Linked DNA regions of Homo sapiens. The protein of the gene in region 6 purifies or fractionates together with the protein of the main gene of each other region. This does not show direct contact. Each region holds a gene or a part of one and is shown on either strand. Other genes may lie near its edges.

What was found.
Region 1: the proteins of H2AJ (region 6) and DCAF13 purify together in Homo sapiens (affinity purification with mass spectrometry; one large-scale study listed by BioGRID and IntAct). This does not show direct contact.
Region 2: the proteins of H2AJ (region 6) and PPM1G purify together in Homo sapiens (affinity purification with mass spectrometry; one large-scale study listed by BioGRID and IntAct). This does not show direct contact.
Region 3: the proteins of H2AJ (region 6) and DDX46 purify together in Homo sapiens (affinity purification with mass spectrometry; one large-scale study listed by BioGRID and IntAct). This does not show direct contact.
Region 4: the proteins of H2AJ (region 6) and DIDO1 purify together in Homo sapiens (affinity purification with mass spectrometry; one large-scale study listed by BioGRID and IntAct). This does not show direct contact.
Region 5: the proteins of H2AJ (region 6) and ESF1 purify together in Homo sapiens (affinity purification with mass spectrometry; one large-scale study listed by BioGRID and IntAct). This does not show direct contact.
Region 7: the proteins of H2AJ (region 6) and NOL10 purify together in Homo sapiens (affinity purification with mass spectrometry; one large-scale study listed by BioGRID and IntAct). This does not show direct contact.

Annotation. Positions count from the first base shown.
Region 1 is NC_000008.11:103,428,886-103,432,385, reverse strand, and holds part of DCAF13 (DDB1- and CUL4-associated factor 13), read right to left. Parts: intron 1,775-3,500; coding exon 1,697-1,774; intron 1-1,696. UniProt on the Homo sapiens protein: Part of the small subunit (SSU) processome, first precursor of the small eukaryotic ribosomal subunit.
Region 2 is NC_000002.12:27,383,146-27,385,591, forward strand, and holds part of PPM1G (protein phosphatase 1G), read right to left. Parts: intron 1,944-2,446; coding exon 1,528-1,943; intron 948-1,527; coding exon 807-947; intron 456-806; coding exon 221-455; intron 1-220.
Region 3 is NC_000005.10:134,786,279-134,789,778, reverse strand, and holds part of DDX46 (probable ATP-dependent RNA helicase DDX46), read right to left. Parts: intron 1,267-3,500; coding exon 1,188-1,266; intron 564-1,187; coding exon of another isoform or gene 511-563; exon of another isoform or gene 165-510; intron 1-164. UniProt on the Homo sapiens protein: Component of the 17S U2 SnRNP complex of the spliceosome, a large ribonucleoprotein complex that removes introns from transcribed pre-mRNAs.
Region 4 is NC_000020.11:62,920,006-62,923,505, forward strand, and holds part of DIDO1 (death-inducer obliterator 1), read right to left. Parts: intron 1-3,500. UniProt on the Homo sapiens protein: Putative transcription factor, weakly pro-apoptotic when overexpressed. Tumor suppressor. Required for early embryonic stem cell development.
Region 5 is NC_000020.11:13,771,420-13,774,919, forward strand, and holds part of ESF1 (ESF1 homolog), read right to left. Parts: intron 1,197-3,500; coding exon 1,096-1,196; intron 65-1,095; coding exon 1-64. UniProt on the Homo sapiens protein: May constitute a novel regulatory system for basal transcription. Negatively regulates ABT1.
Region 6 is NC_000012.12:14,773,098-14,775,524, reverse strand, and holds H2AJ (histone H2A.J), read right to left. Parts: upstream 1,121-2,427; 5' UTR 1,055-1,120; coding exon 665-1,054; 3' UTR 501-664; downstream 1-500. UniProt on the Homo sapiens protein: Core component of nucleosome. Nucleosomes wrap and compact DNA into chromatin, limiting DNA accessibility to the cellular machineries which require DNA as a template.
Region 7 is NC_000002.12:10,687,176-10,691,235, reverse strand, and holds the start of NOL10 (nucleolar protein 10), read left to right. Parts: upstream 1-1,260; 5' UTR 1,261-1,374; coding exon 1,375-1,440; intron 1,441-4,060.

The DNA.
Region 1 (3,500 bases), on a different chromosome or scaffold from region 6:
GTAACAAATGACTAAGTATCAAATTAGGGGCAAAATTAATGGTGAGCTTAGGGTTAACATAAAGAACTGTTTCTAAAGACAAGTATGATTTGAACTGACCTGTGAAGGATCAGTAATTCAGTGTTTCTCAATGGGAACACTGTTGGCATTTTGAGCAGGATTATCTTTTGTTGTGTATGACTATCCACTGTAGGATGTTTTGCCACTCAGGGACCTCCCACTACATGTCCCTCTTGCATTCCCAGAACTGTACCTGGTAGGGGACTACAATCCCTGACTAAGAACTACTACATTTATGAGAGAAAGGATAAAAGAAACATTGATAGACTAGTAGATGGAGCAAAGAAGCAACAGAAAGTAGCAGTGTCTAACAATCCCTACATCTATCAAAGTGACCTGCATGTGACAAACTCCAATTCAATGTTACCTAACTGACTAAAAGAAATAAATGAGTTGCAAATTAGAACCAGATTTCAGAGCACCTTGAAAGCCAGGCTACATTTTCTTCAACCTAAAATTAATGGAGCTCCATTAAAAACTGAGAATGTGCAAAGCAGGAGGCAATAACAATGAAAAATAAACTAAATTAAAAAAAAAACAGAATGAGTGTTAGGTAGGTGGGAGGGGGCAGAAATGACTATTCATTAAACTAGTACCTCATGTCAGCATTCTGCTAAATGCTTAAAGTATCATGTTTTATTCTCAGCGAAGTGCTGCGAGATAGTTATTAATACCACCACCTTACAGGAGAAACACATTTTAGGTTAACGTGCTTAAAAGTCTAAGACCAAAGTTCATATAGGATCTTCCCATTAAATCACATGAATGAGTGAAATCATATAAGTGGTACTTTGGAAAGATTATCATATTTATCTACTTCAAACTTCAATGAATGTACTCTCCTAATATCTAGTTGTTACGTTATAAAAATGATTTAGGAATAACAAAAGCAAGTATTAAAAGCATTTCTTTTGTATGTGGACTACGACAACAGACTTGTGGCATCTCAATGATGTCCAGCCCTTTCTGTCACTCAAAATTCTAGTACCTGAAATAAACTTTATACCCTTTTACTTACAATGGCACTCCTTTCCTTACTTACAGACAGTATCTGTCTCCCTCTTGAGAGTTAGCTTAAGTTGTATTATTAGCTCTGATATGTAAGTCCTGAAATTACTACTTTAGAATTGTTAGGAAATCTGTTACTTTGAACAGGATAGTGGTTGCCTAAATGTCAAACTAGTATTGATCAGCATGTAACTGAACAAATAAAGCTGGTTACGTGAATGAGTTCTAAAACCTTCTGGAATAAAATAGTGTACATGTCATACGATAATCATGGGGCTTGAATTTATTGAATATTATTTGAATATTATTACACTGTTAAGTAACAGGATGCAATACCTTTAAGAACTTTCAATTCAGTAAGTATTAATTAGAGGCCTAAAATGTACTGGCATCATGGAAGACACAAGGTTGGTGACTAGGATACAATACCTAGCAGAAATTTAAGAGTCTCTAAAAAGCAATAGGGAGCTGAAAGAACATGACTATCATCATGTAGAGTTCTAAGAACACCTGTATAAAAGATTTTTTTAATTCTGAGAAAATATTTGCTCCATATTGTTAGTCACTCTATTTACAGAGAAATATATAATGCCAACTGTATAAAGCAAAAGTCAAAACTGAAACTCACCTTTTTCAAAGGAGTAGCTTGCCTCATATCGTACAGTACTATATTCCTGTCAGATGCACAACTTCCCAAGAGAAATGTCTAAAAACAAGTATAACAATCACCAGTTCAAAGCCAGACCTGGCAGCAAACCACATCCATTCAGTAAACAAATGATTTAATTGCCCTTAATATTTATGTTAAAAAACAAAGTCCATTTTAAGAGGGTACAATAAATCATCCATAATCTCAGCAACTTAAACCAAGTATTTTCACTGTAAAATCCTCATGCTTGTATTTTATTTATTTATTTATTTATTTAGAGACAGAGTCTTGCTCTGTCACCCAGGCTGGAGTGCAGTGGTGCAATCTTGGCTCACTGCAACCTCTACCTCCCAGGTTCAAGCAATTCTCATGCCTCAGCCTGTGGAGGAGCTGGGATTACAGGGGTGCGCCACCACACCGGGCTAATATTTTGTATTTTTAGAAGAGACAGGGTTTCACCATGTTGCCCAGGCTGGTATCAAACTCCTGACCTCAGGTGAGCCACCTGCCTCAGCCTCCCAAAGTGCTGGGATTACAGGCATGAGCCACCGCACCTGGCCCCCATGCATGTATTTTAATGTACAGATATTACTGTGTTCTAATTTGTAATAAAACATATTTTACTTACCTACTCTTCAACTTAAGACTTGTTTCCTGTTTTTTACTATTATAAGTAATACTTCAATAAACATTTCCCCCCCACGTAGTTCTTCTTTTGAATTATTTCCTTAGGATAAAATTTCACAAATGACATTACTGAATCAAAAGGTATGAACAATTTTATGGCTTTTGATATTTAGGGCTAATTATTTTTCCAAAGAGCTGTACCAGTATACACTACAATGTGGGATATGTCCATTTTAATGCAACTGGGCAGCACTGGGTAGTGTCATTTAAAAGTGTCATTTAAAATATCTGTATGACAGTATTTCCTAGCTATATAAATTTATTGTTTTATTAGTAAATGTTTCTTCGTGTTGTTAACTCTCTATAAATTAGGCCTGTCTTTTGTCCAACTGTTTGAAGATTTTTCTAATTATTTTATTTGTAAGTCAATTATAAATGTGCATGGTACTCACATAACCCCTTGGCATTAAGTAAAAATAAGCCCTCTATCATCCAGTGGATCCCTGAAACCCTCTCTCTGTAGCATCATTCCTCCTCACTCATGGTTCCTGACACTCACAACTATTGGCTTCTGCCTACAATTACTTCCTATTGCAAGTATGTGGGCAGCAAGAAGAGCTATTTACTAAATAGTTGCATGGCCAGCTAACTCCTCCTACTGTCTGTACGCAATTCAAATAACACATCATAAAGCTAATGTTATGATCATGATTTCCTCTCAGTTCTTTCTGAAAGCCTGCTATCTTAATGGCTGCTTTTCTGAGACTTCCCTAGTGAGGTCCCTCAACCTTTCTTGGCTTCTCATTATGTCGCCTCAGGGTCTGACCAGGTTCCATTTCTAAAAAGAAAGACTTTGATCTGAACAAAGCAAAACAATCTACCTAGACCAAATGCCACCTTTCACACTGTAAAACGTCCCAATGATCAGCATAAACTTTTGGCTTTACCAGAATTCTAGGCTTCAATATTTTAAGAGAAAATTAATTATTAATGATTAGAGGAGACAAATACAAATACACTCCATTTGTTCACAGCAACATGCCCTTTCCATTAAGTTTAAAACAGGATAAGAGACACACACACCATTTACTTTTACCACTAAGTTCATAAGGTTAATAGCAATTAAAAAAAAAAACAGCTGAACAAATACAGCTGC
Region 2 (2,446 bases), on a different chromosome or scaffold from region 6:
TTTTTCATCATTCAAATGTTACATAAGATGGGTATAATGATACCTATGTATAATGATACCTCTACCCATCTTAGTTATTTCACAGAAATATAAGAACAGAGGTAGTAGATATTAAAGTGCTTTGAAAGGCACAAGCACTAGGAAGATTAAAGTTTGCTACTAGGTAGTCTGGGACAGAGAGAAAGACCCTAGAAGTCTTTCCCAGTTTCTTGGCCCTTACCAATGGCTCTGGAGAGGTTGAGGCCCCCGTTGACTCGCCCATCCATGGTGACCTTGCCACCAGCATTCTTGATGCGTGCTAGTTCTACTTCATCCTCTGGTTTGTGATCATAGGACATGTCTAAAGCTTTGCCAGCCTCAGATACCACACAGCGAGAGTCTCCTGCGTTGGCTACAATCAACTGCTTCCCTCGTATCAGGGCCACCACCGCTGTTGTACCACTGTCAGAGCCAGGCTTAAGAGGAAGAAAAGGAGCATCATGGGGGCTTCTGAACATGCGTTCCTCACTGATGTGCTCCTGATCGTTCACCTATGCTTGCTTTCACTGGGACCCCCAAAAGAGCTTTAACAAACAGGAGAAGCACACATTTCATCTTTCTAGAGACAGCAGCACACTCCCTCTCCCTTGTTTTTAGATAATTCAACCCCAAAGGCTTACCATCTCATTCCCCTTGCAGAATAAATCCCCATGACTATTACTTCCATCCTAAAGTATCAGGGGGATCCCCTGTCTCAAAATCAAAATTAGGGGATTCACACCTGCCTTGTGGCTTTTCAAGACTCATTGCTCCCCTTCCCCACACACCTCCTCTTTGCCTTCCATCCCTGGCACCATCATCTCTTCTTCTTCTTCTTCATCGTCCTCTTCAGCCTCCTCGGTGTCATCCTCATCTTCCTCATTCTCTGCCTCCTCACTGCTGTAGCCATCCTCTTCCTCGCTGCATTCCTGCCAGGGGGAGGATCCCAGACTGCTGAGACTGGGATGATCCCCTCCCTCCCCACAGCTCATACTCAGAATCAAGAGGTCCTGACTGAACACAGGTCCTCAAAACACTGAAAGATACAAGTATATGGTCATGAAAATTGGGGGGATGGAAAGGGCTAGCATGAGTACAACTGACATCCTGAACTGGGCTTAGCAGTCACTAGCAAAAAGCCCAGGACAAGGCAAGGGCTGCCAGCCAAAAATATCTTTCAGGCACTGTGGCCAGAAAATAAATTTTCCAGAGAAGAAAACAGTCAACTAGCCAAGGTAACAACTATCTCCTTGTTCTCTCTCTAGGAGACAGACTCTGAAAAGCCAGAACTAGATCTGCTTGTTATAGTACCAACAAAGGAAGAGGTAAAAAGGCAAATGGTACCTGTGATGATGGAGCTCAATGAATTCAAGACTAAAGCTTAGAATACAGTGGGTCTTGGGGGATGATGTCAAAATAGGAGAAGGAAAGAGAGTTGAAAACTACAGACGGCAACCAAACAGGACCTCTCTGCAACTTCAGCATCTGCCTGCCCTCACAGGCCCTTACCTCACTGTCTTCCTCTTCTTCCTCCGCCTCATCTGACTCATCCTCACTGTCCTCAAAGAACTTGGACTTAGCAACTCGAGGCAGCTTGTCAGAGGCTGAAGAGCAGGAAGGCCCAGCCTCACCAGTGGGAATGCCAGGCTCACCAACTTGGCCTGCCTCAGTCCCACGTTCCGAGTTGGAGGAAAAGCCTGTGTAGGCCTTGGCTGTGGGGCCATTTTCTTGTGAAGGAGTTTCCCTAGTTGAGTCCTCAGGTCCTGCCTCCCCATTGAGGCCCTGGGACCCTGGTTCCTCGCCTGTCCCACCTCCAGATTTGCTGTGGGGAGGGCCCTTGTGACAGTTCTGCCCGTAGCGTGTCAGCAGCTCTTCAATAGTCATGGTAGCCTCTTCATGCAGCAGTGCAGCCTCCTCATTGTCCACTGCAGGGAAGAGGCTAAATCAGAGCCCCCATGCCAGACTCCTCATGGGATCCGTCCCTCTCACTACCTCAACAGCCCTTGCAGCCTCTAACTTCCCCACAACCTCCCACTCCCAAGGTTCCTCTCGCTCAAGTCTCAGAAGAACATGCCCTAGCTCCTCCTCCTCCACAGACTTCTTTTGGTTTTTGTGTTTCATCCCCTTCTTAATCAAAACAACACTAGTTACTATACTTCCCCTCTGACGTCTCATTTTTTATTGTTAAGTTGTAAAAACCCTATTCTGGCTGAGGATCCAGGAAGCCCACAATGCTACTGTGAATTAGGATTTAGGCTTAATGATTGGCTATTGGGGCTAATAACTGCTCCAGTCTTGAGGGGAAAAAAAAGCACATAAATACTAGCAGGAACCAGGAAGACCCCATCACAATGACAAAAGATAATGTATATACAATGCTTACAGCTCAGATGCCACTCAACGAAGATAATTCTCTCCCTCCTTTTCA
Region 3 (3,500 bases), on a different chromosome or scaffold from region 6:
ACATAGGAAATTCCTTCTAAAATATTAACAGAAGCATTGCTATCAACTGTTGAATCAATCACCTGGCAAAAACACGTATAAAATAGTTATTTAAAAATAGACCACAATGACAGATAAGAGAAAAAGGTAAAATTAATCAAGATGAATTTCAGGAGGAGACTTAATCAATGCAGCATTGAGAAAAAAAAAAAGGGATTATTTAATCAGCATTCAAACCAAAACTTTCCATATGCTAGACAAGCACAATGACTTCTCAATTTCGATGTCACTTTGCCAACTTCATGTACAATTAGAATTAGAAATTCAAGCAGAATACTACTAGAAACATGCACTAACTCAGTTTTTAATACTCTATTATGTACACACTAAATATTGCAATGGAAACCTCTGAGAGCATTTTCTTCAAAAAATAAAAAGTGCCAAAATAAGTGCTATCTAATATTTAAGTATTCCACACTAGCATTTGTAGCCCCAATTAGTTTTGCAAGGTCGGGAACAGCATTAAATTACCTACCTTTGATGGTTTAAGTCTCGGAAGCCCAGTTCTATAAATCTTGAAGGGCCTTTCTCCACAGAAGTTAAATAATGTCAACAGTTTAGTAAGAGTTTTGATAGGGAATAATTTAACAAAGCATAACATTTGAGCTACAAACATGCAATATTTACAAAAGATAAAATTTCTTGAAGCTGCAATATCTTAATTTATGTAGTATCTAAGAAAATACTAGCTCATGTGGAGAAAAAGTCTAAATTTTGTAATAAAGAAAAAGCTACTACCCCACTCTTTTACTAAGCAAAGCCAGGCCAAAACTGGATTAAGAATCCAAGTTATGATCAGATGGAGTTACTTCTGAAAAAAAATTTTAAATTGCAAAAATATCATTAATGCTTGTAATAATCAACTTGTTACAATTATTATTTTTTTTTTTTGAGACGGAGTCTTACTCTGTCACCCAGGCTGGAGTACAGTGGTGCGATCTTGGCTCACTGCAAGCTCCGCCTCCCGGGTTCAAGCTATTCTCCTGCCTCAGCCTCCCAAGTAGCTGGGACTACAGGCTACAAATTTTAAGATACTGCAGCTTTAAGAAGAAATATAGAAACCCTTTGTTGGTTTCTTGCATCTGTTTTAACAAAAAAAAGTAAAGAATTCAAAAATAAAAGACACCAAAAAAATACCCCTGACTTACCACTGTTAGCGGCTAACATGTCAATCATTCGACCAGGTGTGCAAACAATAATTTCAGCACCTCTTTTCAGCTCAGCAATCTAATAAAAAAGATGAAACTTTATAGTCTATTACTAATGCTTACTTAAACACTAAAAAATACTGCATTTAGTTCTTGCCTAGTCTAATTAGAAGACTTCCAAGCTTCCTGCTTAATTATTTTGAATCTCGGGGCACTACTAAAGAAATAGCAACAACGTGACCACATAGTGCCATAAATTTGAAACAAATAAGAACTAGAGAATTCTGCAAATTTGATTTGCCACTATCCCTCAAAACCAAGAAATGAACTTAAGAAAGCAGTTTAAAAAAAAAAAGTGATAATCTCTTGAGCCCAGGAGTTCAAGGTTGGAGTGAGCTATGATCACATCCTTGCACTCCAGCCTGAGCAAGAGCAAGACCCTGCCTCAGAAAAAGAAATTTCTAAGTGACCACATAGACTAGTGTTTTTCAAATTGAGGGTTGCCACATTAGTGAATCATGAAATCACTTTAACAGTCATAATCAGCTTTTTTTTTTTTTTTTTTTGAGACAGGGTCTCACTCTGTTGCCCAGGCTCTGTTGCCCAGTGCAGCAGTGTCATCATAGGTCATTGCAGCCTAGATCCTGGGCTCAAGTGACCCTCCCATCTCAGCCCCTCCCCCCACCACCCCACACACCCTCCCAGTATCTAGGACTACAGGCACTCGCTAATTTATTTACTGTTTTAAGAGATGGGGTCTCACTACATTGCCCAGGCTGGTCACAAACTCCTGGACTCAAGTGATTCTTCCATTTCAGCCTCCCAAAATGCTGTGATGATTACAGGTATGAGCCATAGTGTTCAACCACAACCAGCATTTTTTAAATGAAATGGAATGGAAAATACCAGAAGTCCCTTAACATCATAAAACTTTTGTTTGGCATTTATATAAATACAACGTGCAGGCATGTACCATGTTATTTTGTAAGTGTATTTCTACAAACTACAGTCATGAAAAATCATAAAGATAAACTTAGAAAATGAAGTAATTTGAAGTAATTAAAATAGCACTGGAGTTAACAAAAGCAAATATTCTTGAAGTGTGTTCTTGTAACAATAGTCCTAAGAAACAGTTTTGTAGTTAAGTTCAGAAAACGTCACTTAATTTATCCCATTTATCTAGCAACACAATATACATTAGCTTATTAAGAACAAAGAAGTCTTACAGGAAAGAAAGTGGTTTTAACTTTTTATACTCCAACATTTCCAAAACTTATCCAATCACAGAACCTACTTTTTTGCCTTCTTCTAGTTAAGCAAAATATCTGAAAACTATTTCATTCTTTAGAAGACAGCTGAAGGGCTGGTCACAGTGGCTCACGTCTATACCTTTCGGAGGTGTTACAAAGGGAAGCCAAGGCAAGCAGATTGCTTGAGCCCAGGAATTCAAGACCAGCCTGGGCAACATGGCAAAACCTCGTCTCTACAAAAAAATACAAAAACTAGCCGGGTGTGGTAGCATGCGTCTGTGGTCCCAGATACTCAGGAGGCTCAAGAGGGAGGACGGCTTAAGCCCAGGAGGTCAAGGATGCAGTGAGCCAAGGTCACACCACTGCACTCCAGCCCGGGCAACAGAGTAAGATGCTGTCTCCAATAAAACAAAACCAAAAAACAACAACAACAACAACAACAAAACACCTCTGATATTAATGCATCCCAGTAATCACCATCACTTCCGCCACCCCCCAAGATGGAGTCTTGCTCTGTCTCCCAGGCTGGAGTGCAGTGGCGTGATCTCAGCTTACTGCAACCTCCGCCTCCCAGGTTCAAGTGATTCTCCTGCCTCAGCCTACCGAGTAGCTGATATTACAGGCAGGCGCCACCAAGCCAGGCTAATTTCTGTGTTTTCAGTAGAGACGGGGAGTCTCGCCATGTTGGCTAGGCTGGTCTTGAGCTCCTGACCTCATGATCCACCCGCTTCGGCCTCTCAAAGCGCTGGGATTACAGGCATGAGCCACCGTGCCTGGCCACCATCACTTTTTAAAGATGTCAGCATAGATTAGAGAAACAAATGCTCAGAGATCAGAGACCTAGGTTCCAGGACAAACTCTAGAACGTATTAACCTAATTGGTCAACTTAATAAATCTTTCTGAATATTTCCTCATATGTAAAATGAAAAAAAAAATCTGCTTTCTCAGGCAGGGGAAGAGGGAGGAGGGATAATCTATGTAAAAAGATTCAAAAATTCTAATCTAGCATTAACATAGTATGTTCTTTTTTGCCACAACTATATTGGGTCATAATTAACAAAA
Region 4 (3,500 bases), on a different chromosome or scaffold from region 6:
TCAGTAAAAAAGAAAGTATGGTTTCAAACACTTAAGATACGGTCCCAATTCTACATACCAGGATTCCTGTTGCTCTTAATAAAAGATTACCACTTGGGCCCTGGTGAGGACCACAATGCACAGGTTCTTATCCCCATGAAGAAATCCACCTCATGCCGCAAGTGTGGCAGTGTGAGCTCCCCGGGTACCATGTGAGTGGGGTGCGCTGCGGGAGGTCATCCCAGCAGGGTACTGTGGGGGCTGCTTCCCCTCAAGGGCATCTGTTTATTACAGGTTTAAATCACTGTTCCTTTATGTTCTCCTCGGTCCACACCCTTAGAGACCTGCATAATTCCATGGCCCCAAGCACAGCCTACTCTTGCCTCCCCCCAACCCCCGATTTTCACTGCTGCAAAGGATTCAGCAAGGGGCTGTGTAGGGCACTTTGAGGGAGAGGTGTGTACTGGAACAGCTTTACCGGTGACAGCGCATCAGATTGATTCCACACTTGCCCCAAGGGGCAAGCACATGGTTGAGCCACTAAAAATTGTTCAAAGACACAGCTTATCTTCCTAAAAGTAATCAATTTCCCCAAGTGTTTAGAGCTATTTTACAACTCTTAGAGAAGTGGTTCTCAAAGCGTGGTCCAGGGGTCCTTTTGGGAGGCCCCCGGATCAAAGCAGTCTGCACAACACCAACATTCCATGCTGTTTCCACAGCCACTCTGAGTATATGCTAGAGCATTTCAGAAGCTGAACGGAGACACTAAGTTTGAATTCGGAAGGAGAATCCAGAAGCTGTCAGTTAAGCCAAACAGATTTGTGAAAACAAAACCATCTTTCTCATTGTTTTCGTCATTGAAAACAGGTTCCACTAAATGGTTTACTTATGTTAATATATAATGGTTTACAATTTTACTTTATTTATTTGAGATGGAGTCTCGCTCTCACTTAGGCTGGAGTGGAGTGGCACGATCTCAGCTCACTGCAACCTCCGCCTCCTGGGTTCAAGGGATTCTCCTGCCTCAGCCTCCCGAGTAGCTGGGATTACAGGCGTGTGCCACCATGCCGAGTTATTTTTTTTGTGTCTTTAGTAGAGAAAGGGTTTCACCATGTTGGCCAGGCTGGTCTTGAACTCCTGACCTCAGGTGATCCGCCCACCTTGGCCTCCCAAAGTGCTAGGATTACAGGCATGAGCCACCGTGCCCGGCTGGTTTCCAATTTTAAATAGAAGGCACTTCAGCATTTAAATGACTCATTTTTAAATGTCAAACATGGTGACTATCAATAGATATAACAAAAGCTCTTTGGGGTCTTCCCTGCTTTTTAGGAGTGTAAAGCAGTCCTGGGTCCTGCCAGTCTGGTAACCGCTGACACAGCAGCGCCTTCCACTGCTGGAGCCTGAAAGGCTGCTCCCCGAGGCCATTCCGGTTCAGTCAGGATCCTAGTGGCAGTGACAGGTACTGCTTTAGCATTCACTTTTTCCAGACACCCTGTCTACTCTCATTCAGTTTCATGTGATTACTGACCAGGCAGGGATTGCCAAGTGAGATGATGGCCACCCTAAGTTCAGGTGGAGAGAATGGGGTTTCTTCTTTAAAAACCCTTCTCTCACAAGAATTTGCTTCTCAAATTGGAGCTGCAGCCAATTTTTTTTTTTTTTTTTTGGAGACAGGGTCTCTGTCGCCCAGGCTGGAGGGCAATGGAGCGACTGATCACGGCTCACTGCAGCCTCAATCTCCCTGGGCTCAGGTTATCCTTCTACCTCAGCCTCCTGAGTAACTGGGACTACAAGCATGCACTACAATGCCCAGCTATTGTGTGTGTGTGTATATCCACAATATATATATACTATATATATCCACTACATATACCCGCTATATATATATCCACAATATATATACACACTATATATATATCCACAATATATATACACTATATATGTCCAAAATATATATACACTATATATGTCCACAATATATATACACACTATACATATGTCCACAATATATATACACTATATATATATCCACACAATATATATCCACACGATATATATACACACAATATATATATACACACACTATATACACTATATACACACTATATATACACACTATATATATACACACACACACACACATATATACATATATACACACACACACACACAAACAATGCCCGGCTCTTTTATATGTATGTGTGTGTGTGTGTATATATATATGTACATATATATACACACACACACATATATATATATACACACACACACATATATATACACACACACACAGGTGTCTACCTGGCCTGTGTCTCCAGGGTCTTGGGAGCATCTCTGGGGCCTACTCCCCTCAGTGCAGGTTCAGCATTCCCAGTCCTGACAGCTGCAGCCAGCAGTGCCCACCCCCACCCAGACATTTATAACCAGGACAAGCCCTCAGTTAAGCAGATGGGGGGCTCACTCAAGGGGGAACCTGTCTATGAATGCAGGGTTCAACCCCAGCTGCAAACGATAGCGGGGGTGGGGGGGTACAGTGTACCAGGCAGTGTATCTGTCTAGGAACGCGGGGGCCACAGGGTATCAGGCAGTGCATCTAAGGCCTGCACTTTCCTGTCTGTGAAATGGGGACGGTAACGACCTCACAGCTTCCTACAAGGTTTTCTGAAGCGACATCCTGTGCCAAATCATCTGCGGCAAGTGTGCAACAGACGGTAGGTGCCACCTAAGAAAGTGACACAGCCTGTGCTGGCGAGGGCTTGGAGAGAAAGGCCCTCTTAGGCGAGTCTATTTGTCCGACATATTTGCCAACAGCCCTTTATGGGCTTGGCACAGGGAAGAGAGCGGGTGACATACTGTTCTCATGGAGGGCAGGGAGTGCTTCACGATGACCCAGGAGAAATTAAGTAGGAAGTACACACTAACTTATGAGTGTTTTTTTTCTCACAAAGGTGACAAACTGAACACAAACTAACAGACCAGTTTGAAAAATCAAGAAACATCTATATAGTGAAATTCTTTTTGTTGGGGGTGGGGGGTGGACAGAGTCTTGCTCTGTCACCCAGGCTGGAGAGCAGTAGCAGAACCACGGCTCACTACAGCCTGGAACTCCTGGCTTCAAGGGGTCCTCTGGCCTCTGGCCTCAGCCTCCCAAAGTGCTGGGACTACAGGAGCACATCAGCATGCTTGGCCTAATTATTATTATTTTTTTTTTGAGACAGAGTCTCACTGTCGCCCAGGCTGGAGTGCAGTGGTGCGGTCTCGGCTCACTGCAACCTCGACCTCCCAGGTTCAAGCGATTCTCCCACCTCGGCCTCCCAAGTAGCTGGGATTACAGGCACGTACCACCACACCCAGCTAATTTTTGTATTTTTAGTTAGAGATGGGGTTTCACCATATTGGCCAGGCTGGTCTTGAACTCCTGACAAGTGATCCACCCATCTTGGCCTCCCAAAGTGCTGGGATTCCAGGCACGACCCACCATGCCCGGCCGGGAATTCTTTAAGGGTGATGAATCATCACAT
Region 5 (3,500 bases), on a different chromosome or scaffold from region 6:
TACTACTGCATAATAGTACTTCAGTCGTTTGAATTGATAATCTCTCAATTTTTCTCTAGACGTCCTAAAGTGGGAAAAACTTATTAAGCATACTTATACAGAAACACAAAAATTTCCCTTTAAAAAATAAATGTAATTCTTTCAAGAAAAACATATTACAAGCTGGCCTTCATACCAAACCATCTTTCCTTCATGACTTTGCCTTTATAAACATTAAATACTTAAGCTCAACTTATTATTCTCACAAGGTACAGATATTTGGATTGGAATTTGGTATCTAGGAAAGGAGTGTGTGGGAATTCGTGTGTTTATCTATAATTTAACTCACAGAATAGTTACTTTGCTATTACACACTGCCTTCTCAAGTAAAACCAATAAAGATAATTCTATTATAAAATATGCTAGAAAACCATTAGCTAAAAGACATTCCTGATCTTGCAAAATGTTTGCTTAAGAGTCTATAAGTTTGATTTTGCTTAACTACAACACATTCTTTTTTTTTTTTTTTTTTTTAAGGTTCCACACAAAGCACTGATACAACTCTTTCTTTGAAGGTCTTCATCTGCTCTCTCCTGTCACTAATCTATTTAACCCTCATTTTTATTAAGTGCAAATATAGCTCCACCTAGTGGCTTAAAAACTATCTTAAATTATTTTCTATATTGCACCATGATGATAAAAAAAAAAGTTTTATCATTCTTTCACTTTTCTATTTGATTCTCAAATAAGAAAAAATTATATAATTTGAAGGCAAACAGAGCTTCAATGATGTCTCAAAAAAAAAAGCAAAACGTACTAATTCAGAGCAACGAGGCTGAAAGAATTCAAAAGAACTCCAAATCAGTTTAATCATGAAATGTTTTTCAAAAACTGCAATAATTACTTTCATGAATACAGAAATAGAAATATACACGAACAAAAATCTTCTTGGAATAATGTACCACTTTTAACAGACTTTAAATCTGTTTTGCAACCTGTTTTAACCACGAATGGCACAAGTATAAACTTTAGTTTTAACTATTAAGGTGACCAGAATTCTGAACTAATGACATGAATTTATGAGGTTTAGTTTTATGTTCTATAGTGATTTAATACCAGTCTTTTTCTGGGGCATCTTCAGGAATACTTAATAGCTCTACTGGTCCTTGAACTTGCTCTTCCTTCATCCTCTCCTTTCCAAATTCTGAAGGATATATCTAAACAGAAAAAAATAGGATCAATGTAATTTGTACATTCCTTTACACAAATATCTAGACCTGTCGAAGTCAGGAACTCTAAAAGTCACAACTTGACTCAATGAAAACAGTAAGGGTGACTCACTTCCAAATCCACTATAGGAAGCTAGAGCATCTTGAGAAATTTTATTTAAAAATAGATCACTTTGGCTAGAGACTAACAAGATACGAGGCTTGGAAACAAAAATAAGAGTATCTCCTCCACATACCACCTGGGACAAGATGGTTCCGAGATCCAAACGAAAAATTAAAAGCAAAACAAGATGCTAAGCTCAAGGAAATGTGAATAAAAACACACACATGAAAAATGACTGAATTAGTTTACATGAAATACAGAAAAATAAACATATAATGAAGATCAATTTTGTAATAACCAACTTATCTCTGTCATACCATTTATCCAGTGCTTTCTTTTAAAGAAATAGAACAGAACTGACGACAACCTTATACAGATTAGGTATAGTCTCGATATAAGAAAAAGAATTCACTCTCACCAGGTGTGGTATCTTCTAAAATCTTGCCTACTTTAAGAGTCAAGAAATAATTGTATTAATGACATTGTTTTGATACTACTAGGCTTAATATACATTTGTTAATGAACACATGCTTTTTTAAACTGTCTGAAATATGCAATTTATCAACAAGATGATCCAAGTTTTTCTTACTAACTTGAATAGTATATACACAATAGGTTTAATATGTAAGTTTATAATATATATGTAGTCACATCTTTTGATTCTTTTTTTTCCTCTTTTCTAAGTCTAGAAATTCTCACTATTGCCTAAAACACAGGGTTTTTAAATTGTTTCTTTGGCTTGACTTTTAATTTTTTTTTCCTTTGCTTCATCTAGAATTTCGCTGGAGCTATTAGGAGGTGAAGATCTGAACCAAGTTCTCTATCCAATGACCTGTTCATTTGTCCAAATATTCAAGCAGCCTATTTTGATCTAAGTTATCATATGAACTCTTTCTATCTATTCTGTTCTACCAATTTGTCCCATTTTTACCCAAACCTGTCAACCCCCATAGCATCATGAAATGTTTAGATATTGTAACTTGTAGGGTGAGTTTTTACACTTGATCTTAGCCAAAAGGCCGAGAAGCGACAGGGTGAGTTTTTATATTAGCATGATTTCTCAAAAGTTTATTAGCTAGTCTAGGCCAGGCGCGGTGGCTCACACCTGTAATCCCAGCACTTTGGGAGGCCGAGGCGGGCGGATCATGAGGTCAGGAGATCGAGACCATCCTGGCTAACACAGTGAAAACCCGTCTCTACTAAAAATACAAAAAATTAGCCGGGCGTGGTGGTGGGCGCCTGTAGTCCCAGCTACTCAGGAGGCTGAGGCAGGAGAATGGCGTGAACCCGGGAGGCGGAGCTTGCAGTGAGCCGAGATTGCGCCACTGCACTCCAGCCTGGGCGACAGAGCGAGACTCCATCTCAAAAAAAAAAAAATAGTTTATTAGCTACTCTTAATTTGTTTATTCTTTTAGATGATTATTGGTATCCTTTTTCTTAACTTTGACTTGAACTGGGATTTTGATCAAAATTACCCTAGAACAGTAGACATAACATCTTTAAATATTTAAACAGAATAATACAGGTTGAGCATCCCAAATCCCAAATCCAAAATTCCAAACTTTTTGACTGTCAACGTGAGGTTCAAAGGAAACGCTCATTGGCGCATTTCAGATTTTGGAATTGCGATGCTCATCCAGTAAGTATATATAATGCAATTTTATTTCAAAATCTGAAATTCTAAACACTTCTGATCCCAAGCATTTTGGATAAGGGAGACTCAATCTCTAATAATGATTGAGGGCAGGGCTATTTCAGGCACTGCACTAAATACTTAGTTCAAGCTCCTTTATACTTAATCCTTACAATCACCAATACTATTGTTATATCCATTTGGATATATTGGAAAGATGTAAACATACTTGAGAGATTAATTAAGTGTCCAGGATCACATAACACTTACGAGAATCAAGATTTGAACCCAGGTCTGCAATAATGCAAAGCCTGGATTCTTAATTATTAGGTTGGCTTGAAATATGGTATCCTCAAAATTTATGTAAGTTTTTCAAATTTATCAAGTGTTACAGTTTACTTCACATAGGTCATTTGTGTTTATTAAGGTAATTTCCAAGAACTTTATGTGGTTTTGTTTCTAGTATAATTAGATTTTTTCCTTAATTGGCCAGTGTTAGCAATAAGGAATGCAATTTATTGTTAAAAACACTTCTTATATGCTGTCCCTTTACTGA
Region 6 (2,427 bases):
AGTGCTATATAAAGATATCTGATATCCAAAGCATGAAAGCACAGCAGCTACTAGGCTAGGAAGAATCTCAAGTTGACATCGTGCCATCAGAGCCACCCTTCCAAGACGGAAAGTTACTCCACTTTTTGAAAAATATGGCCGCAGACACTTCCTGCCCCGAGCTCAGCTCGATCCGACGGTATCTTCCCAGAACTTGGTCCTGAGTGCTCACAAACTGGCAGGAGAGCGAAGGCTCTGTGAAAGGGAAGTAAAAATAATTCCGAAGGAGGCCTCACCGCACCGACTCTGCCTCCCCTTTGCCCTACTGACAGCGAGGTGGCTTCCACCCTGCCCACCTCCAGGCCACCCTCCCCTGACGCCTCGAGGGTGACCTGCGGACTAAAGCCGTCCAGAGTGGCTCAAGCCCACCCACCAGTGCCTGCTCCAGGGGTTTCCCGGTCGCCCCCCTCCCCTGGGGCCATCCGACATGTCCCCGCGACTACACAGCTCTCTCGACCAAACGATTTTCACCAACTTTATTGGCTCCCGCCGGGACCCTCGCCGCCCACCTCCCCGCTAGATGTCACCGGCCCTCCATGACATCCAGCACATTCAAAAGCATTGCGGGACGACCATGAAAAGGGCCTTTGCTGGGGGAGCCAGCTCCCTGAGGGCGGCGTCAGGGTCATTTGCTCTTCGTCTTCTGACTCTCCGTCTTCTTGGGCAGCAGCACGGCCTGGATGTTGGGCAGGACGCCGCCCTGAGCGATGGTCACTTTGCCCAGCAGCTTGTTTAACTCCTCGTCGTTGCGGATGGCGAGCTGCAGGTGGCGGGGAATTATCCTGGTCTTCTTGTTGTCACGCGCGGCGTTGCCAGCCAGCTCCAGGATCTCCGCCGTAAGGTACTCCAACACCGCCGCCAGGTACACCGGCGCCCCGGCGCCCACTCGCTCCGCGTAGTTCCCTTTGCGCAGCAGTCTGTGCACTCGGCCCACCGGGAACTGCAGGCCCGCGCGGGAGGAGCGGGATTTGGCCTTTGCTCGCACTTTGCCGCCCTGTTTCCCGCGACCGGACATGATCACCTCTCGCCTACAACTCCAGAGACGGAGACAAACCGCTCTCGGCGTCCGGTACCGGAATGCAACGTACCGCACCCGAACTGCCTCTACAAACTCTTTACGGCCGCGCGGCAGCCCCTTTCCATTGGCTCTGGTGACCAATGACAGGCAGGCTCCGCTCCCAACTAGCGCTCTGGAAGAGAGACCGCCTCCTCCAGCTCTCTCCAATCAATAGAGCAATCTCCGAATCCTCATTTACATAGCCGCTCACATAAATAACGAGGCCAGCCGGCTCAGTCTTTGGGGACCCAGATGAATTTAGCGGTTACGGGTTTTCCACGACCACGCTCGCTTCCAAGCACATAAACTCGTAGGAAATAAGAAAACATGGTTGGAAACAGAAAACAATCCAGAAGAAGAGCTACAGGGGTTGTCCGTAGACGTTGCTATGCTAAGTGGATGTTCTCATATAATACACCGTACTACTCAGGTAGGTTTCTGTCTCCGCAGCCCGTGCTGCTTAGGCGAAACAACAGCCTGTCCGCGGAATTCTGCCTGCCCAGGACAGGGTCCGTGGACTGTTTCTTATACAAGCGCCTTGCCTCCAGCTAGCTACCCAACAGTGTAGAGACCACCCTGGTCTCCCCGCAGGGTCCTGCGGCTCACAGCCAGCCAATCGTTCACTTTTGAGTCTGAAGCTAGAGTGATGACCAGACGTGAATGCTTCCTGTGCTGACGGGAGGAACAAGCTCGCCTAGCCAAAATATCTTTTGTCTTTGAGGCTATGGGCCTGCAAAGAGCCACTAGGTTTTATTGGAGAGGCCAAAGTCTTGGCCTTGGCTTGCTCCCCGCAAGCCAGGGCGCCACAGATCAGCGGATCGGGTCCTCTGCGAAGACGTGGAGGTCCCCCGGGTCTCTTTGTAAATGAGTCCAGAGACTAAAGTCAGAATGGCAGCTTATTCTTATATACCTGAATTGTGGACCCATGCTTTTTGAAACAAAAAGAGTGTTTCAAGTGTTTTGTTTTAATTAAAAATTACTTTCTCCTAATTCATCGAGGTCATTTCATTTTTACCTGAACATTTTCAGTAACACAGTTAACACCGATACGTGATGTAATGTTGAACGCTTGCTTTTTAAAATAAACATTTTATGTGGATTCATTTACATTTAAAGTAAAGCAAATTTACCTTCTCACTATCCGAATAAAGATTTGACTTCATTGAAATAACATTTTCAAATATTTATGTATATGTCATTACTGCCTAGAACAATGATGAACCCATACTGGGGACTCAATAAATGTCTTCAGAGCTATTGTCATGGTTTAGGCGGTCTTTCCGGAGCCAGTCTGCCTCAGCCTAAATCCTGGCTTTACCACTGAGCAGTGA
Region 7 (4,060 bases), on a different chromosome or scaffold from region 6:
ATTTGAGAGTTTCCAAAATGTTGTGGGTAGGAGAGCAAAACAATAATATTTGGGTTTTAGAAAGTAAGGCATAAAATAATTTGTTCATTAAATCAAAGGAAGTAAGAAGATCACTTGGGAAAGTTATAATCCAAAAATAGTTAAGTATTTGAGTTTCAGCAGGAGGAATGAAAACAGATTACTTTAAGGAAATATTTCATAATTAGAAATATCCAGGTTTAGATACTGAAAGTGAGGGCCAGAGATAGGAATGGGTTGAAGATGACGCCACAGTCTTCTTTTTTTTTTTTTTTTTTTTTTGAGACGGAGTCTCACTCTGTTGCCCAGGCTGGACTGCAGTGGCACGATCTCAGCTGACGGCAACCTCTGCCTCCCGGGTTCAGGCGATTCCCCCACCTCAGCCTTCAGAGTAGCTGAGATTACAGGCGCGCGCCACCAGGCCCGACTGATTTTTGTATTTTTAGTAGAGACGGGGTTTCACCATCTTGGCTAGGCTGGTCTTGAACTCCTGACCTCAGGTGATCCGCCCGCCTCGGCCTCCCAAAGTGTTAGGATTACAGGCGTGAGCCACCGCACCCGGCCTACAGTACTTCTAACGTAACATCGCAGAAACACTGGAGGAGAGAAGAGAATACACTTCCACTCGGAATTCGCACCCTGGTCGCCTTCATTCGCTGGGTTCACTCGCTGAACTGCCTCGCCCCCGCCCGGGAGGATGACATCTCGGCCTGGGCAGAGACTCGAAAGCCTCCTCCTGCCGCTCGGGATGCTAACAGCAGGGAGAGCTGTGTCTAGTTTTTTTTTTTTTTTTTTTTTTTTTGAGAGGGAATCTCGCTCTGTCCCCCAGGCTGGAGTGCAGCGGCGCGATCTCAGCTCACTGCAACCTCCGCCTCCCAGGTTCAAGCAATTCTCCTGCCTCAACCTCCCGTGTAGCTGGGACTACAGATGCCGGCCACCACGCAAGGCTAATTTTTTTGTATTTTTAGTAGAGACGGGGTTTCACCATATTGGTCAGGCTGGTCTCGAACTCCCGACCTCAGGTGATCCGCCCGCCTCAGCCTCCCAAAGTGCTGGGATTACAGGCGTGAGCCACCGCGCCCGGCTTGTGTCTAGTCTTGCCCGTAGCAGCGTCGCCGACAGCCACGCCGGGTTGTCAGAGCCTCACTAGTTTTTCTCCCGGCCGCCGCTCTTCCCGGATTCAGCCACCTTCCCTCTTCCGGGAACTTGCCCGCGTGTTCCGGCTCCAGGAAGTGCGTCATCAGTCGGCGCCAGCGGCCGCACGCCGCGGAGCAGGGGCTCGGAGGTCCCGGGATTACGGTGCTCGAGCACGCTGGTGGGAAAGGACCCGGGACTTGAACAGTGTTGTGCGGCGCCATGCAGGTCTCCAGCCTCAATGAGGTGAAGATTTACAGCCTCAGCTGCGGCAAGTCCCTTCCTGAGGTGAGTCACTTCCCGGCCCCCTCACTCTCGAGCTCTTGGGGGTCGTCCTCCTCGTGGGGCAGCCGCCCCTCTCCTCGGCCCTAGCCTCTGTTTTAGCTGGACGCTGGTCACCCCCCGACTCGGGGAGGCCCAGAGGCGGCTGACAATTTCCGGGGGAGGTGTCGGCATTGGGAGACAAGGACACTGCCGTCACCGCGCCAGAAACTGGACCAAGGGATAATCAGGGTCAGTGAGCTTTGCTGGAACTTTTGTAAAGTTCTCTGTTCCAGAGAACGCAACCATTTGGGCCTCTTTGGGTGTTCACAGTCCCTGCCGTACATCGAGGAGGAAAACGTGGCAGATTCGTTGACACATCTCTCCCCCATATGGCCATCAGCTGTTTGTGGAGTCCCTATCATTTGCCAGGTCTTAGGGATACAACAGTGAACAAGGGAGATACAGACTTCGCATCTGCAGAATTTATGGTGTAGAGGACAGTATTTTCGAGACTTGTTGAACTTAACCTGATTCCTAGTCTTAAAGTTGGAGAGGGCTTGGACAAGTCGGTAATTCTCTTCCAATCTTCTCGTGTTTAGTAATGCAGCTGAGATTTAATAATGCGTTTAATATGCAGCTGAGATCCAGCAAGGGGAAGGGTGACTTGTCCAGCATGACACACTTAGGCTCTGAAACTTGTCTTTTGTTTCTTATACGTGATGATCCAGCCTCTGTCCAAGCACTACCACTGAGCACTACCTTTTGTGGAAGCTCATTTCCATTTTGAGACTCTGCACTTGTTAGAAAGTGGTTTTCAAATATGTCACCTTATAGCATGCCACTGTTGGCCTGAGTCCTGCCCTTGGAAAACAGAATAAATATAGCTCTCCTTCCATGCGTCTGCTTCTACAAAAATTTGGAGCCAGTGCTTAGGTTTTTCCTTTCTTCCTAAAATTCTGGTTTGAATAATTCCCTGTCTTCCAGTTGTTCTTCACACCCCATGAGCTTTCTCATTTTGTTCATTCATTCTCCACATGTATTGAGAAGTTACTGTGTGCAAGCAACTCTGTTTTAAGTATTGGGATCTATAGTGGACATTTCAGATAAGGTTCCCTGTTGGGGAAAAGGGAAATAAACAAGTGAGCAAATAAGGCAATTTAAGGTAGTCAAAAAGTACTTTTCGTGGTGAATGATTAGAAGAGAGCTGTTTTGGATAAAATATTGAGAGAAAGTGTTTTGGATAAAACCTTCGGGGAAGGCCTCTCTACAAGAGGTGACATATGAGCAGAAACTTGGATGATGAAGAGGAGCCAGTCGTGTGAAGATGTGGGGAAGAGTTTTCAGTGCTGAGAACAGAAAGTGCAAAAGCCCCACATGGGAATGCACTGGACATGTAGGAGGACGGAAGAGGCACAGGTGTGATTGCACTATGCTGAGTGAGGGGGCGAGAGCAGGGTGGATGAGGCTGGAGAGGTAGGCCTGGTAGGAAAGGTAGGAAGTTCAAGTTTTATTCTTAGTGCTGCTGGAAGTCACTGTTGTGTGGGCTGCTGTGCGACAAATGTCTAGCTGGGGAGGGTTCAAGTCGGGATGAATTAGGTAGTCCAGGTGAGCGACTTCGGTGGCTTGGGCTTGCCTGGTAACAAAGAAGATGCTAAAACACAGTGAGATTCAGGACATACTTTGTAGATAGGGTAATGGAACTTGCTAATGGATTGGACTGTTGGTAGAGGGAAGTTGAGGTGACAAAAAGGAAGGAATCAGAGAACTCTTCAGTTTTGAGTCTGAACAAGTGGGTGCACGGTGGTGCTGCTAACTGACATGGAGAAGAATCAAGAAGGAACACATTGAAAGGTGGAGAGGAGGAACGTAGTGAGCAAAAAGAATCAAGATTTTTTTTTGAGGTCGCGTGCAATGGCCTGATGTTGGCTCACTGCAACCTCTCGGGTTCAAGCGATTCTCCTGCCTCAGCCTCCCCAGTAGCTGGGACTACAGGCACGTGCCACCACACCAGCTAATTTTTGTATTTTTAGTAGAGACGGAGTTTCACTATGTTGGCCGGTATGGTCTCGATCTGATCTTGTGATCCACCCACCTCGGCCTCCCAAAGTGCTGGGATTACAGGCATGAGCCACTGCACCCGGCCCAAGGTTTTTATTTTCAATAGTGAACATTTGAAGTTCTAATACATACCAAATGGAGATGTTGAGTAGTTAGCAGTTGCATGGATACTAGGATGGAGATTGCAGGTGAATTTACTGTCGTTATTTGGGACTAGGTGAGATCAAATTGTGAGAGAAAGAACAGAGAAGATAACTAGGCTGAGGACCTGAGGCAGTCTTAGCATTTGTCATCCAAGAAGAGGAGGGGAACCCAGCAAAGAAGAAAGAGTAGTGGGCACTGATGGAAGGGGAGACTGGGAAATGTGTAGTTTTGTAGAAGTAAGTGTTTCAAGGAGGAGGTGGTGGTCACCTGTGTCAGCTGCTACTGAGAGCTTCAGTAAGATGAAGGCAGAAAAATGACCATCGACTTTGGCATGATGCAGAGCGCCCTTGACCTTGGCAAGGAGCTCCAGTGGAGTGGTGGGGAGGGTAGCTTGAGCTGAGTGGATTTGGAAACCCCTGCTTGTCCTGTTTAATATTTTCTG